Linked DNA regions of Homo sapiens: region 2 is linked to region 1. A link means that fine-mapping ties the variant in region 1 to the expression of a gene that starts in the linked region. Tissue or cell type: monocytes. Region 1 holds a variant in brackets; the other region holds the start of a gene. All regions are shown on one strand. Distances are between the middles of the regions.

Region 1 (8,104 bases):
GCCCAGGCTGGAGTGCAATGGCGTGATCTCCTGCTCACTGCAACCTCCACCTCCCGAGTTCAAGCAGTTCTCCTGCCTCAGCCTCCTGAGGAGCTTGTATTACAGGCAAGCGCCACCACGCCTGGCCAATTTTTGTATTTTTAGTAGAGATGGGGTTTTGCCATGTTGCCCAGGCTGGTCTTGAACTCCTGACCTAAAGTGATCCACCCGACTTGGTCTCCCAAAGTGCTGGGATTACAGGCGTGAGCCACCATGCCTGGCCCATTTACGGTTTTTTGACAGAATGATCAAAAGCTTTCTCAACAAGATATTAGAGAGAAGAGATAACAAGGTGGGTTAGAAAAATAAAGTGAAGCCAGGTGTGGTGGCTGATGCCTGTAATCCCAGCACTTTGGGAGGCTGAGGCAGGCAGATCACTTGAGGTCAGGAGTTTGAGACCAGCCTGGCCAACATGGCGAAATCCTGTCTCTACTAAAAATACAAAAATTAGCCAGGCGTGGTGGCACGTGCCTGTAATCCCAGCTTCTTGGGAGGCTGAGATGGGAGAATCACTTGAACCCTAGGGGCGGGGGTTGCAGTGAACTCAGATCACGCCACTACACTCCAGCCTGGGCAACAGAGCCAGACTCCGTCTCAAAAAAAAAAAAAAAAGAAAAGAAAAGAAAAATAAAGTGAAGGCAAAGGTGAGATTAGTTTAGTGATACCAAACGTGGGTTAACTTCAGAAAGCACCAGGTCAAGTGTTGTTTTGTTTTGTTGTTCGATAGCATTCCAGACCCTAACCCCAGAGGATTTTTTTTAGCAGGTCTAGCTAGGGACCAGAAATCCAAATTTGTTTTGGAAAAGCTTCCCAGGTATCAGTGGTTGCCTGGGAAATTAAGGATAAAAAGAAAGACTGATGTTTTTCTTTTTACCATTTTAAACTGTTTGAATTATTTTTTACATGACTCATACAAATCAAAGGTCTGGTTAGTTACTGTAATACAAAATGTGCTGAGTTGTACAGTACAAAATGTGTTCTCTCAAATCCTTGCTTTATGTGGGTCCTCAAATTAATTAGGTACAGAAATTTGTTAAGCCAAGATATACTTCTGGAATGATTGTCTGAGATATCAGATTTCAGCCTGATTACATGATAGAGTAATTAAAAACTGAATTAATTATATTTTACATTATTAGATTTAATAGAACTTTCAGATTTCTGGAAACTAACACTGTATAAATATGTAAATATGTAATCCCAGTAACCTTTCTTAGAGTAACTGAATGTCATTTGGGTAGTAGACAAATTCTGTTTATTTCATTGCCCTTTTACTTTCAGAAACTAAGTTATTAAAGCACAAACTGTATGCACAAATGAGGGGAAATTGAAATGCAAACCTCAATGAAGAGACATTTTTGTGCTAAAATTCCTAATTACATAAGTTATTTACAAAAACATTCTTGATTTATGGTGTTCCAAAATTTCCCTTAAAGCACTGAGTTATTAAAACTTCCCACAGTATGGCCAGGCATGGTGGCTCATGCCTATAATCCCAGCACTTTGGGAGGCCAAGGCAGAAGGATCATTTGAGCTTAGGAGGTCAAGGCTACCATGAACTATGATCGTGCCACTGCTCTCCAGCCTGGGTAACAGAGCAAAACCTTGTCTCTAAAAAATAAAAATAAGGCCGGGTGCATTGGCTTATGCTTGTGATCCCAGCACTTTGGGAGGCTGAGGCGGGTGGATCACCTGAGATCAGGAGTTCGAGACCAGTCTGACCAATGTGGTGAAACCCCATCTCTACTAAAATTATAAAAATTAGCTGGGCGTGATGGTGTGCACCTGTAATCCCAGCTACTCAGGAGGCCGAGGCAGGAGAATCGCTGGAACCCAGGAGGCGGAGGTTGCGGTGAGCCAAGATTGCGCCACTGCACTCCAGCCTGGGTGACAGAGCGAGACTCCATCTCAAAAAAATAAATAAATAAATAACTTTCCACGGTATGAGTCTATGTTCTATAGAAATATTGCATTTGCACAGAGGTAAATGTAAAGGGATGTTTGCAGCACCATTGTTTATAATAGAGAAAAGTTGTCAGCAACCTCAGTATATGCCAATTATGGTAAACACATAATTGAATACTGTGCAACCATTACATAGATTGTAGATGATCTGTATATACCAGCGTCAAAAGGTGTTTGTGATAAACAGAGTTAAAAAAAAGCAAGTTATGGAATAGTGTGTACCATCTGTGTTGGTTAGAAAAGCAGAAAAGTATAAGCTCATAGAAAAATATATGGCCAACGTGTTGGCTTATGCCCGTAATCCCAGCACTTTTGGAGGCCAAGGCAAGCAGATCACCTGAGCCCTGGTGTTCGAGACCAGCCTGGGCAACGTGGCGAAACCCCATCTCCACCAAAAAATATACGTATTAATATATAAAGCTAGCCAGGTGTGGTGGTGCATGCCTGTAGTCCCAGCTACTCGGGAGGCTGAGATGGGAGAGTTACTTGAGCCCGTGAAACAGAGGTTGCAGTGACCCAAGGTGGAGCCATTGCACTCCAGCCTGGGCGACAGAGCGAGACTGTGTCTCAAAACAAAACAAAAAAATACTTGGTAGGTTAAGAACAAAGTGTTTATAGGTTTTCTGTGTGTGCTGAAGGAAAGAATAAGGTGAAAGACTTTTACTGTAAGTCTTAGTGGTTTGGCTGATTTTTTTATCTACCTAATACTTGCTTTTTTTTCTTTCCATAGCATTATAGCCTTCAGAAAGGCCAACAAAGTGGGTATTTTCATCAAAGTTACACCACAGCGTGAGGAGGGTGAAGTGACCGTGTGCTTCAAGATGAAGCATGATTTTAAAAACCTGGCAGCCCCCATTCGCCCCATTGAAGAAAGTGACCAGGGAACAGAAGTCATCTGGCTCACCCAGCATGTGGAACTTAGCTTGGGCCCACTTCTTCCTTAAAAGGTTCCACTGGAGGGCAGATCCCAAAGGACAGTATCACCGTAAACCTGCGTTAAAATGTGGAAGCTGCTGCTTCATTAGGCCTTGTTTATAACGATGTACCCATGCACTACGGAATTCTATTGCTAAGAAAGTGGGAGCATAGGCAAGGCATTGGGAACACAGGGTAGCTGCTGTTGCTCTTGCTCTCACCCCTGTTGACACCAGTAAGTCTGTGTCTCCCTCACTGAACCCTGCACGTTGAGTAACAGCAGCATAATTCCATCCTAGGAAAGGGGATGGGTGTTCCTTGGAATGGCATTGTATTTACCACCTGAGAAACTCTGTACTGTCTCTTGATCTGATCTCACTAAGGATCACAATGTCACAGATGAAACTTAAATGATAACCCAAAGGTAGACCTGCTGTTAATGATCCAGCATTGGTCACAATGTACCAACTGCTTTCTGCATTCCGTTAAATATCATCTAACAGTCTAAAACATATCCCTTCATTGCCATAATGGCTGCCATTTTGCCATAGATTTCCATATAACTGAAAAACTGA[A/C]TTGTCACTTTATCTTTAGTATCATGATGATTGGAAAAACCTGTGAAGTTGTTAAGGCACTCTCATTTGCCCTCTTTTTCTAAGTGAATACAGGACACGTATTAGTTGTTCTTAATTTTTTTCCCAGTAAAATATGGATCTTTTAAGAAGAATTTGAGAAGCAAACAATTACATGTCATGTCAAGGGGGTAGCAGATTCCATTCGTTTTCAATATTGCCACAATACCCAGGGATTAATGCTGCCACAGGGGGGCAATCTTTATTTGTCTTACTTCCTACCCCTTCCCTGTTCTGCCTCTTTAACTCAGTTAAGTTGTTCTGTTTGGGACCTGGAAAAGAACCCAAAGAAAACCTGAGTGGACAGGTTCATTTCTGGAATGCAGAAAACATTTTAAAGGCTAGATTTTTAGAATATTCTCAACTAGCATTCTTTCCATTGATTTGAAGGGGAAATTAACTATTATAATCTCTTGAATCCAAAACTGGATATTAAGAACTTTCCCCCTTACTAAGTTTAAGACTTTTGTCATGTGGTGAGTCAAATAAGACCATTTTGATTGTAAACCATAAAATAGTTCAGCAAGTAGCCCACAGTTCTGGCCTAACAGCAGACTTGCTGTTTTCACTTGGTATCCTGGAGTTGGGTTGCTAACCTTAATTTCTATGATGTTTTCTAAAATGAAACTTGATAAAGTAGACCACCAGCTGCACCGTGTTTTCTGTAAAAGTATTGTTAGTAAGTGGCCAAGAGACTTGAGGAAAATACAGATTTTTTGTTTACCTTGGTCTTGTTTTAAGTCTTAAAAAATTAAAGATAACATTATAATGTAGAATACAGATGGGACATAGTCCTTGTAAGCTTCCCTTGAAAATGTTTTAAATATTTAGGAAGCTTTTAAAAGACACTAAATTGTACTCTAAAAGACACTAAATTGTACTAATTGTACAAAGGTCAAGCCAATTTTATGAAACAGTCCTACAGAGTAATATATGTGATGCAGTGTAAGAAGGAAAATACTCATCTCTAACATTATGGTAATAACATTTAGCCTCTTAGGAGTTGGAGCAGGGGGATGGGTAATTACAGATTTGCAGACTATAGAAAGAGTTTCATTTTTTTGTGACCCCACAGAGTCTCAAATTTTTATTTCACTACCTGCTAGAGCCTACTGTGAAATCACTGCTCCATATTTGCCAGTGGAGGAAATGGGCATAGAGTAGAGAATAGCTTCATATGTTTACACGTTTGCATAGACTACACACATGTCATGCGTTTATGGCAGGTAGCTGGTATTTATTCCCCAAAGTAATAATGTTGAAGTATGGGTCTCATCATTCCCATACACAGAAACACAAAACACTTTGATCATAAACTTTTTTCTTCAGAAGCCAAACTAACTTGCAGAATAATAGAGCCACTGGTTTAATGTTTCCTCAAGATAGGTTTTAGTGTAAGCTAGTATTCTGTGTGTTCGTAGAAATGATTCAATACCTGCAGCTGGTGAATTAGGAATTGTATTTGTTGCCTTTTTTATATTAGATGAGGTGCAAAAATTTTAATGCTAGTCAGTATGCACCACCACAGGAAAGTTAGATCCCATTAGCACTTGAAACTACAGCTTTGGAAACTTAGGCTAAGTTAATTTGGATTTGTTACTTGATTCACCTACTGACCTTTTCTTTTGTTTGAAGTGCTTATCAGCATAATGAGCTAAGTGTCATGCATATTTGTGAAGAAACACCCTTTTTGGTCCCTTTTGGGACAGAGAGGTACTCCTTGATCTTTATGAATGACAGGTTACTGTTTTGCCTTATTGCTTAACTTAATGTAGTGAAATAAAGCAGACAAAGCTTGAGCGTGTCTTTTGTTTGCTCTCATGTAGATACTAAGTAGCATGGCTCAGAGCCAAAAGACAAGCGTGAAGTTAAGAGAGTTGGCTAAGAGAGTTGGTGGGGCATGCTCCCTTCCATTCCTTAAATGAAGTAATCTAAAATCTCTTAGCAGGTTAGTTCACCATAATATATAAGTAGATGTTGCTTTGAGCTTCTTATATACATATTCACAGAACCATTATATAAATGTTGTTAGACCTCTACCAGTTTTTATCCTGGGTCATTGCTTCTAAAGATATCCTTTACAATATACACAGTGGTCTGACTCCACCAGTGGCCACTCATCACCTTCATCTGTACCTTCATAACTGTTCCTTCCCTCCTCTTACTTAGATGAATTATTCATACTCTTCCTGTTGGAACCCAGCCCCACCTCTTAACACTGAAGCTCATCCTCTTACCTATTCACAGATAGCATCGGCAGCTCCCTCCTTCCCTTTTCCATTAGCATGTGATTTCTCTCATCTTAAAAAAGAAATTGGCCTCACTCTCCTCTTCAGCTGCCACTCCATTTCTCCACTCCCTGTACAGCAAAACTCCTCTAACTCTGACTGGGCATGATCGCTCACACCTGTAATCCCAGCGCTTTAGGAGGCCGAGGTGAGAGGATGATTTGAGGCCAGGAGTTTGAGACAAGACTGGAAAACCTAACAAGACCTTGTCTCTGTTTAAGTAAAAGTTTTTTAAAAAACAAAAATGGCCAGGTGCGGTGGCTCACACCTGTAATCCCAGCACTTTGGGAGGCTGAGGCGGGCAGATCACGAGGTCAGGAGATCGAGACCATCCTGGCTAACAAGGTGAAATCCCGTCTCTACTAAAAATAATAAAAAAAATTAGCCGGGCCTGGTGGCAGGTGCCTGTAGTCCCAGCTACTCTCGAGGCTGAGGCAGGAGAATGGCGTGAACCTGGGAGGCGGAGCTTGCAGTGAGCCAAGATCACGCCACGGCACTCCAGCCTGGGCAGCAGAGCGAGACTCCGTCTCAAGGGAAAAAAAAAAAAAAAAACCCTAATTCAACCTTCCAGTTCCTCCATTCTCACCTGAACCCATTCCAGTTAGACTCTCACCGCCACCACTTGGTCGAAACTGCTCTTGTCAAGGTCACCAGCAATCACCACACTTAAATACAGGGTCAGTTCTCAGTCCTTAACTATGCAATTTTTCAGTAGATCTGACAGTTTATCTCTCCCTTCTTGAAAGGCTTTGCTTGGTTTCCAGAACACAACACTCCTGGTTTTGAGGCAGAGCAGGGACCCCCTTTTAGGAGGCTTGTGGGCCCCTCCATGCATGGAAATAAAGGGAAATCTTGAGTTCCTTCAAGGGAATTCTAGGCACCTAGCTAGCCCAAAGAAGTTAATGAGCAACCTGATAAGCAAGAAGTAGCTGAACACAATAGCCAAGGAAGTCAGAGTGAGATGTTTTGTTCCCTATAGAAACTAAGGGTAACATACATGTCCCCAACTTTTCAGAAACCTGAACTCTCACCAGCTTTAAACCTCAGATAAGGGGAAACTGAGAACTGAACTCTGACCACTGTTCATTGTTCTAAGTTGCTTCCTGAGGGGCCTGGAGGAAGTCATGTCCACCGGCCAGAGCTAACATTCTTTTCTGTGGATCCCAAGTTTAGACAGCTTCACCGCCTTAATCATAAATCAAAAAATCTTTGAAACCACCTATGACCTTTGAGTCCACCCCCATCCCAGCTTTGAGATGTCCCACCTTTTTAGGTCAAACCAATGTATAGCCTCTATGTATTGATTTATGACTTTGCCTGTAACCTCTCTTTCCCTGCCTTTAAAAACCCGTAGCTTTAAGCCATCTGGGAGTTCGGGTCTTAAGCATGATCTGTGCAATTCTCCTTGCATGGTGCCCTGCAATAAAATGCCTCACTTTCTCTTGCTACTAGCCTGATGTCAATGGCTTTGTGGCACTGGGTGAGCAGACCCCAGTTTAATTCAGTAACAATTTTCTGTCTACCCTGCTAGAAAGTTTCCTTCCGTATTCTTTGCTAGTTCTTTCCCATCTTCCCAACCTTGCAGTATACCAAATCTCATTTCTCACACTTCTTTCCTCTTTACACTCATTTAATGAACTTGCCCAGTTTTGGGGGGCAAGAATGCCGAGAAAAGATCTATTCCTAAGGCCCACACAGGGCCTGCTGAGGACTGAGGCTGAATTGAATTAGAACAACAGAGAACCCCTTTACTTCTACCCCGCTACCAGCCTACCAAGCAGCTAGTAACAAGCATCCATTTCTAGGGGATGGGCAAAGGCCTAGAAAGTTAGTCACCACTGTGCAGGTAGGCAGGACAGCTGTAAGCTGAGGATGAAGCATGAACACTTGAGTTCTTCAGCCCCAACCTACAGTATAGAATAATGCTAGAGTAGGTGAAATCTGTGGTACATTGAAAGCAACCATAGCAATAAAACCCAAGCCCAGGTCAGGTGCGGTGGCTCAAGCCTGTAATCTCAGCACTTTGGGAGGCTGAGGCAGGTGGATCACCTGAGGTCAGGAGTTTGAGACCAGCCTGACCAACATGGAGAAACCCCATGTCTACTAAAAATATAAAATTAGTCGGGTGTGGTGTTGCATGCCTGTAATCCCAGCTACTCAGGAGGCTGAAGCTGGAGAATCGCTTGAACCCAGGAGCTGGAGGTTGTGGTGAGCCAAGATCGCACTATTGCACTCCAGTGTAGGCAACAAAAGCAAAACTCCATC
Region 2 (8,104 bases), 49 kb before region 1:
CCTATTTCTTGTTCTGCCTTCTAAAAGAAGCAACTGCTTAAAGGTGAAAAAGAAAAAAAAAATTTTTTTAGTTGCCAGCTTCCATATGGCAGCAAGTTCCAGATGGTTTAAAATAGTGTTCATCCACTCGACAAATACTAACCGAGGGCTTGCTCTGTGCCAGGCACTGAGTTAGGCAGGAATTCAGTCTTTAATTCCACTTTGCTCAATTCAGTGAGCAATACACTGGTGCTCTCCTAGAAGCAAGCCTCGGGGTTGGGTGGTGAATTGTGCAAGAGGGAGGGTGAGAAACAGTCTCTGTTTGGCCAAATTTTAGTCAGGCTTCTGAATCTTCTGTAGGCCCATCTGTGCACTTCTCATAAAAAGTGGTTTTAGTGGGCCAGGCGTGGTGGCTCATGCCTATAATCCCAGCACTTTGCGGGGCTGAGGAGGGCAGATCATGAGGTCAGGAGATCCAGACCATCTTGGCTAACACGGTGAAAACCCATCTCTACTAAAAATACAAAAAAATTAGCCGGCCGTGGTGGCGGGCACCTGTAGTCCCAGCTACTTGGGAGGCTGAGGCAGGAGAATGGCATGAACCCAGGAGGCGGAGCTTGCAGTGAGCTGAGATTGTGCCACTGCACTCCAGCCTGGGCGATAGAGTGAGACTCCGTCTCAAAAAAAAAAAAAAAAAGGAAAGAAAAATTCAAAGTTCAGTTCAATTCAAAAGCAAAAACAATTCAAAAGATTTCCCAGAATAAAGGCAGGCCAGCAGTCTTTTGCCATGTTTACACTTGGGAAATTAGCTTTAGCCCTGCCACCACCACATTTCCTGGGCAGTAAGGGCCCCCACAGGGGCTAGCATGGATATTGATGAAACAGGGACTTCTTTTTTCTTCCTCCTCTATTCACTTACTATGACTTTTAGATTAGCCTGTAAATAGATTCAACACAGGAAACCCTATAATTAATATAGTTTTCAAGTAGGAAAGCAAAAGTGGGGAAGGCAGCCAGGGCAGGTGGCCAGCATTGGTGAGAGCAGTTCCCCAGATTCCTAAGCTGTAGAAAACCCTAAGTCTTTGAGGTCAGAGCCCAGATTCGGTCCCCTTCACAAGACCTCATTTGACCAAAGTCTGACTAACTTCCAGTTTTTTCCATTATTATTGTGGATTTACTCTGAAGGACTCTTTATAAAAATGAAAACCACTTTGGGTTTTTCATACTTGGGATATTTAGGGAGCATTTCTTCCATGTGCTTAGTACTTCATACCTTACAAAATGCTTTCACAGCCTGGATGATTTTTTATTTTCACCAAGGCAGGGATTATTCTTCTCATTCTATGTGTCTTGAAACAAGACTCTGAGGTGTAAATGTCTTTTTCAAGATCACATAGCTAGAAAGTGCCAAAAGTATCCACTCAAATTTGATAATATGCCAGGTGGGCAAAACAGTGGGAAATGGATAGCTCATACACTTATAGTGAGAGTGTAAATTGGCCTAGAATTTCACAAGGGCTTATTGCCAGTATTTATTAAATGTGGATATCCTTTGATCTGCCAGTTCAACTTTAGGGTCTCTGTATTAGCCTGAGTTCCCCCTAGAAAGCAGAGCTCAAAATGAGATTCTGCAGGCAGGAAGCCAGGATTGAGAAGTGAATGAGGGTGAGTCCAGGGCTGGGTAGAGTGAAAAAGCAACACAAGGCTACATTATCAAGCTGGTCACCATTGTGCATAACTAGGACTCGATCCTGCTAGAACCCTGAGCCTTTGAGGATGGAAAGTATCTCATTTATCGCTAGTTCCCTCCCCAGTACCTGGCATGTAGCAGGGACAAGATAATTGGCCACTTAATTATTTAAAATCAGTGCTCTAAAAAGTGTCTGTTTTATGTGGATTCAGCTCAAGTCTCCAGCCTTTCTGTACCTGCAGGCTCTGGGACTTCATTTTAACAGCATAGTCCAGAAAAGGGAATTTAAACTCAGTAGAGACTAGTTTATAAACCAGAAAACCAACGAATTCATTAACCTAAAGAAATAATTGCAAATGAGTTGGCTAGTAATATATTCTCTCCTAGGAGCAGATGTCACCTATGAAACTAAATTAGTGCCAGGCTATTGCTTGGTGAACAAGTAATGACTTTTAGGCTCAATTGGTAAAGCGTGACATAAATTGTGAGATTAGCACTGTATAAGCTGAAAAGGTCTATATAAATGTAAGGTATTATTAACATCACCATATTAGAAAATATGCTGGAGGGAGTATACATAGGGGTTATACCTGCAAGCACTAGAGTCAGAGAGAAAAGGGTTCTACCTCCATCTATGAAACCTTATAGAGGAGTCACTGCACTTCCCTGTGCCTCAGTTTCCTGCTCTGTAAAATAGAAATAATGATAGCCACATGCTTTTTGGAGCTGTTGTAAGAATTAAATTAGACAATGTATGTAAAGTTTTGACACAGTGTGCTGCACTTAATAAGTGCTCAATAAATGTTTGCTAATAGTATTCAGTTCCCTTTCTTCTCAATCACCAACTCTAACGTCAGACAGGTAATAATACAACACTACTACAATTATAAAAATGTAGACCTGGTGGCAGGCAACAGAGGCTCCAGTTTCTGCTAGGCAGTTCTAGGTGGTCATTTTACATACTGGGGAGTCCCAGTTAGAGAAAGGGAGTCAGGCTAGTGGGACCAAGGGATAGCAAGAAGAGCAGATGCACTCTAAGTCTGCCTTTCTTCATGGTGCAGGACACGTAGCCCTCCTGTGCAAATAACTCACAATCTTCCTGCACTCAGCTATCACGAGACACATGCAAGTTAGCTCCCTGTAACCTTGGAGTTCTCGGTACTGCACAGCACTCTGCAGCCCAAGAACCATCGGATAAAATCTCCAGCAAGCCTTTGTTTCCTTGAAGTCAGCTCCTCTCTGGCTGGTCTGCCCATTGCAACCTTTCAACGTATTTTCATACCTTCTCTAATAAATCTGCATTTCTTTACCTAAAACTGTTGATAAATTATTTTCCCACCCATGTAATACCAGTCTCACGTAGTCGCTGCTCACCCAAGAGGCAGACCTGAGCCTTAGTTTACACATTAGAAAAACGTAGACGCCTACCAACATTGTTCATTCATTGATTTCATTCCCTCCTTTTCATACTTATTGAAGGTCCACAATACAGACTTAGACCTAACGCTAACTATGTACTCAAAAACCTGCGTTTCAAATGAGATAATGTATGTGAAAGTTCCCAAAGGCCATTGGCAAGACTCAGAAGACAGTGCTGGTGTGACTCCTGTCTTGCAGTCCCCACGGAGCCCTGTCCCTTTGAGACCTTCCATTTGTCTCCTGGATGCTCGCCTGTTAAGTGGGGCAGAGGAGGCCGTCGTAAATAAGACAAAAGATCAGGCTTCCATTCTGGAAGAAAAGAATAAAAGGAGCTCACTGAGTCCAGACCTAATGGCAGTAAGGGCAGTGGACGCTCACAAAAGCGCTGGGGGACGGGCCCAGAGTTGGGGAGAAAACAGGGATCCCAGCTGCGCACGCGCGCTCTGGTTTTCGACGGGCGCAGAGCCGGACGAGGTGGGAAACCTAACGTCAAAGTCTACGTAGGAAGTCGTAGGGAAGGCAGCGAGGAAGACGCTGGCTCTCGGGTCACGTGATGCGCCGGGAGCGTCATCGCCTCCTCCCTCCCCAAGATGGCGTCCTTGCTGCAGTCGGACCGGGTTCTCTATCTAGTCCAGGGAGAAAAGAAGGTTCGGGCCCCGCTCTCGCAACTCTACTTCTGCCGCTATTGTAGCGAACTGCGGTCGCTGGAATGTGTGTCTCACGAGGTAACAGAGTCGCCCTATAGCGAGTATGTGGGGTGGGGGGGGCGCGGCGTTCATGCTAGTCACTGCCACCGGAAGGCTGGAGCTATTTTCCTTCCTTACTGATTGGTTATGTCTTCCGTCACTCGGGTTTGCCTGCGATTTAATTTGCTTCTAATCTGTCACTTGGAAAGGAGGAGCAGCCTCGGGTGGGACTGAGCGGATCTTCTGGTTCTAGAGCGGCCTCTGATTGGACAAACTTGACTTAGGGACCGTGTCTGTCTGCGATGGGGCTTGGTAATTGGGTGGACTACGGAGAAAGGTCTGGGGGTGCTTAGTTCAGGCCACTTAAGGGGCGAAAAACTGCCTTTCCAGGATTTATTGCGAGGATGGAGGGAGGCGCAGGCGTTCTCATTCATAGTTCTCCCATCCTGAAAGTTCTGTTCCTCTTTTGTCCAGAAACTGGGCCCTCGTCAGACTGCCTTGCCCTGTTCCTGACTCAGGCCAAGGCCTGCAGCCGGGAAGAGGTTGGGGCGGCGTGAGTTATGTGAAAAGCGCTCAGAATACAGTATGTCATGTAAGAAGCTGAAAGTGTATTTATGGAGCTAGAGGACAATGCTGTCCTTCCCTGGCACAAGTGGGCGTCCGAAGTTGGATTTTTCAAAAAGAAGACCCCGGCCAGTAAAAAGTCACCAAATAACAAAACCCCAAAACTTCTGCAGCGCTTGGCACATCTTGTTTATTCAGTAAGCTTTAGGGATTAAAAGGCGAGTAAGACATAAAATGCGCTGTTTAATAAGCCATAGTCTTAGTGAAGAAAAAGCTGATAGTAGTAATAGTTGCTGCTTATTCGATACTTGCTATATGTCATGTGCTTTATGTAATCTTCAAACCAATTTAAGTGGATACTTTTTTTAAAAAATTTTTTTTACAGGTAAAGAAACAGATACAGAGTGTTCGCTGTAAGTCACACAGCCAGTAATTTGGGGGTGGGAAGGAGGACCTGGATTTGAATCTAAACAGCCTAACTCAGAGTGTTTTTTACTGAAGATCCCGGGACTGTTAAAATAAATGCATATGAAAACACATACTATAAGCCATTTTATGTGTTATTAATAACTTATTTTATTGAAGATACTTTTCATAATAGGAATAGTCAAGAAAAGCAATTAAATAATACAAGAAAAATCGTATATATTAAAAATATGGCATCGATTTTTCTTCTCATCTCCATTAGCACTTTCCTTATGTGTATCTCCTTGATGATTCCCTATTCCAGCTCCACCTCCAGAATTTATTGGATCATATTCTCCTGTGGTGAATAGAGTGCTCAGTCTCCATGATCTGTCTCTAAGACTCTCTTCAATTAGGACATCCAGTCTGTGACAGCATCTTTTACAGCCTGATGTGTACCTGTGATATGGAGGCCATTAGAGTTTAGGGAAAGATGAAGCTCTGAGGGCTGGGGCAGGCAGTGAAGTTCTAATGGAGAATCTGGGTCTGGAGCTGCACATGAACGGACAAGCAGAATTTGGAAAGGGGGCAAAAAGGAATGACTTGTATTTTGCCTTTTTTGATGAGTCAGTGCAGAGGTTAGTTAGCAATATTGTATTTTATGTTCCTGGAGATTATTTGAGCAACAACTTTATTAATCTTTTCAAATTGACCTGTTTATAGCAGATGATGAAAAAAGCCAGTTTCTATCATAGTATTTATGTTCCAGTGATTGTCTTTTCATTTGCAGGTGACTAGAGTTCTATAATTGTCAAATAGGACCTACATTAAAGAAAATAATTATTCAGACTTTTAAAAAATAAAATGAACTTAAATTTTAGACTCCAGTTTTTTAAGTACAATAAGACTGTCCCATTAATTTGTTTAAAAATCTCTAATTGGTTGGCCATAGCTGACTATGTAAATAAATATTTATGCTTGCCTTCAGTCAACCTGTATTACTTCAATAATGAGAAATCTTTAAAAAAATGTCCTTCAAAACCTAAAAGTATGGTCAAGTTTTATAGTCATATAAAGCTAGCCTAGACAGGAGGATATTTTATCACAATGTTACAAATTGGATTATTTTATTAATCTCTTTATTAATCATAGAATTCTATGGAGTTCAACTGGAAATTGTAGATTGTTAAATAAACAACTTTTAACACATAAAACCCTGATGATGGAATAGGAAAGATCAGAAAAATAGAAGGATTTTTTAAATCCGGAAGAAGAAGAAAAAAAAAAAACAGGTGACTGAAGAAGAATAAACCCTAAGCAGAAAACAGTCTACTTTCTGCTACAGTATAACATATTTTAAAATTCACTATTTGACAAGACATATACACAAGTTAAACTGAGTTCTCCTCTGGTTTTTTTTTTCTTTCTTGTTTCCTCCTAGGTGGACTCCCATTATTGTCCCAGTTGTTTAGAAAATATGCCATCGGCTGAAGCCAAACTAAAAAAGAATAGGTAAGACCTGGACTGATTTTTTTTTTCTTCCTATTTTCCTTGACTGTTCTCTAAAATAGCTAGTTAAAAAGACACATGGGCCAGGCATGGTGGCTCACGCCTGTAATCCCAGCACTTTGGGAGGCGGAGGCAGGGATCACGAGGTCAAGAGGTTGATACCATCCTGGCTAACATGGCGAAACCCCATCTCTACTAAAAATACAAAAAATTAGCTAGGTGTGGTGGCACGCGCCTGTAGTCCCAGCTACTTGGGAGGCTGAGGCAGATGAATTGCTTGAACCTGGGAGGCAGACATTGCAGTGAGCCAAGATTGTGCCACTGCACTCCAGCCTGGGCAACAGAGCAAGTCTTTGTCTCAAAAAAAAAAAAAAAAAAAAGACACATGAAATTAACTTTTTTAACCAGCTCTTTTTCATTTTTAAGCATCACCATTGCCAAAGATGAAATCCCCTTTGATTTTTGAAATAGATTTTCTACTTTAGAACAGTTTTGTACTTCAGAATTATGGTGAAGATAGTATGGAGAGTTCCCATTTACCTCACATCCAGTCTCCCCTATTGTTAACTTTTTACATTAGTGTGGTATATTTGTTACAATTAATGAACCAATACACTACATTTTATTCAGATTTCCTTAGTTTTTCTGTGGTCTCCTTTTTTTCCAGGATTCTTTTCAGGATATCACATTATATTTATAGTTATGTCTCTAGACTCCTCTTGGGTGTGGTGTGATAGGAGAATCTTAAAATTTCCTTGGTTTTGATGACCTCAAAAGTATTGAGGAGTACTGGTGAGGTATTTTATAGAATGTCATTTCATTAGGATTTGCATGATGTTTTTTTCTCATCAGACTAGGGGAATGTATTTTGCGGAGGAGAACCACAGAGGTAAAGTGCCATCTTTGATTACATCATATCAAGGGTAAATACTTATGACTTGTCACTGTTGGTGTTAACCTTGATTATCTGGCTTGAGCTAGTGTTTGTCAGGTTTCTCCACTGTAAAGTTACTGCTTTTCCTTCTTTTTTTGTACTCTACTTTTTGGAAGGAAAATTACTGTCACAGCCCATAAAGACTAGAGAATTATGCTCCCCTGTCCTTGAGGACTATCTGCATAAATTATTTGGATTTGGAATTCTTTTGCATGGAAGATCTGTCTCTTCTCCTCTTGTTTATTTGTTTTTTAAATCACTTACTTATAGGACAGTGGGATTATGAATATTCATTTTATATTTTGGCTTGTAATCCAATACTACTTTATTTATTTTGCTCAAATTATTTCAGCTTTGGCCATTGGGAGCTCTTTCAGTTGACTCCTAGATCCCTTTGACATACCCCCATCATTAGGAGCAGGAGAGAGTTCTCTGTTCATTACTTTGATCATTTTCTTACCAGTACTACAAGATACTCCAGACTCATCTTGTGTGTATGTTTTGTGTGTATTTTTTTTTTTTTGAGACAGGGTCTCACTTTGGCGCCTAGGTTGAAGTGCAGTGGTGCAATCTTGGCTCACTGCAACCTCAACCTCCCAGGCTCAAGCAGTCCTTCCACCTCAGCCTCCTGAGTAGCTGAGACTAGGCACATGCTACCACACCTGGATAATTTTTGTATTTTTTTGGAGAGATAGGCTTTTGCCATGTTGCCCAGGCTGGTCTTGAACTCCTGGCTCAAGCACTTCACCTGCCTTGGCCCAAAGTGCTGGGATTACAAGCGTGAGCTGCTGTGCCCAGCCTCATCTTGTATATTTTCTGTCTCAGTCTTAGAGTTGTTTCTCCAAGGAGCCTTGGTTCACTTTATTGGAGAATAGTCTTAGAAACCAAGATATGGCTGCTAGGCTTGCTCATTGCTAC

Evidence for each region. PIP is the estimated chance that this variant, and not a neighbour inherited with it, causes the effect.
Region 2: it holds the start of DCTN4, and the variant in region 1 is fine-mapped to the expression of DCTN4 in monocytes (TOPMed, PIP above 0.99). The same link has a PIP of 0.9 or more in blood mononuclear cells and whole blood.

Annotation. Positions count from the first base shown.
Region 1 is chr5:150,705,993-150,714,096 of GRCh38, reverse strand. It overlaps DCTN4 (dynactin subunit 4), which reads left to right. Exons shown (of 13, transcript NM_016221.4): 13 at 2,735-5,657. The coding sequence ends at 2,948. Among named protein-coding and RNA genes, the nearest start is that of RBM22, 9.0 kb to the right of the region's middle. The variant A/C (reference allele first, on the strand shown) is at 3,495.
Region 2 is chr5:150,754,568-150,762,671 of GRCh38, reverse strand. It overlaps DCTN4 (dynactin subunit 4), which reads left to right and starts at 3,655. Exons shown (of 13, transcript NM_016221.4): 1 at 3,655-3,813; 2 at 6,185-6,255. The coding sequence starts at 3,679. RefSeq lists enhancers at 3,580-3,879, 4,310-4,379.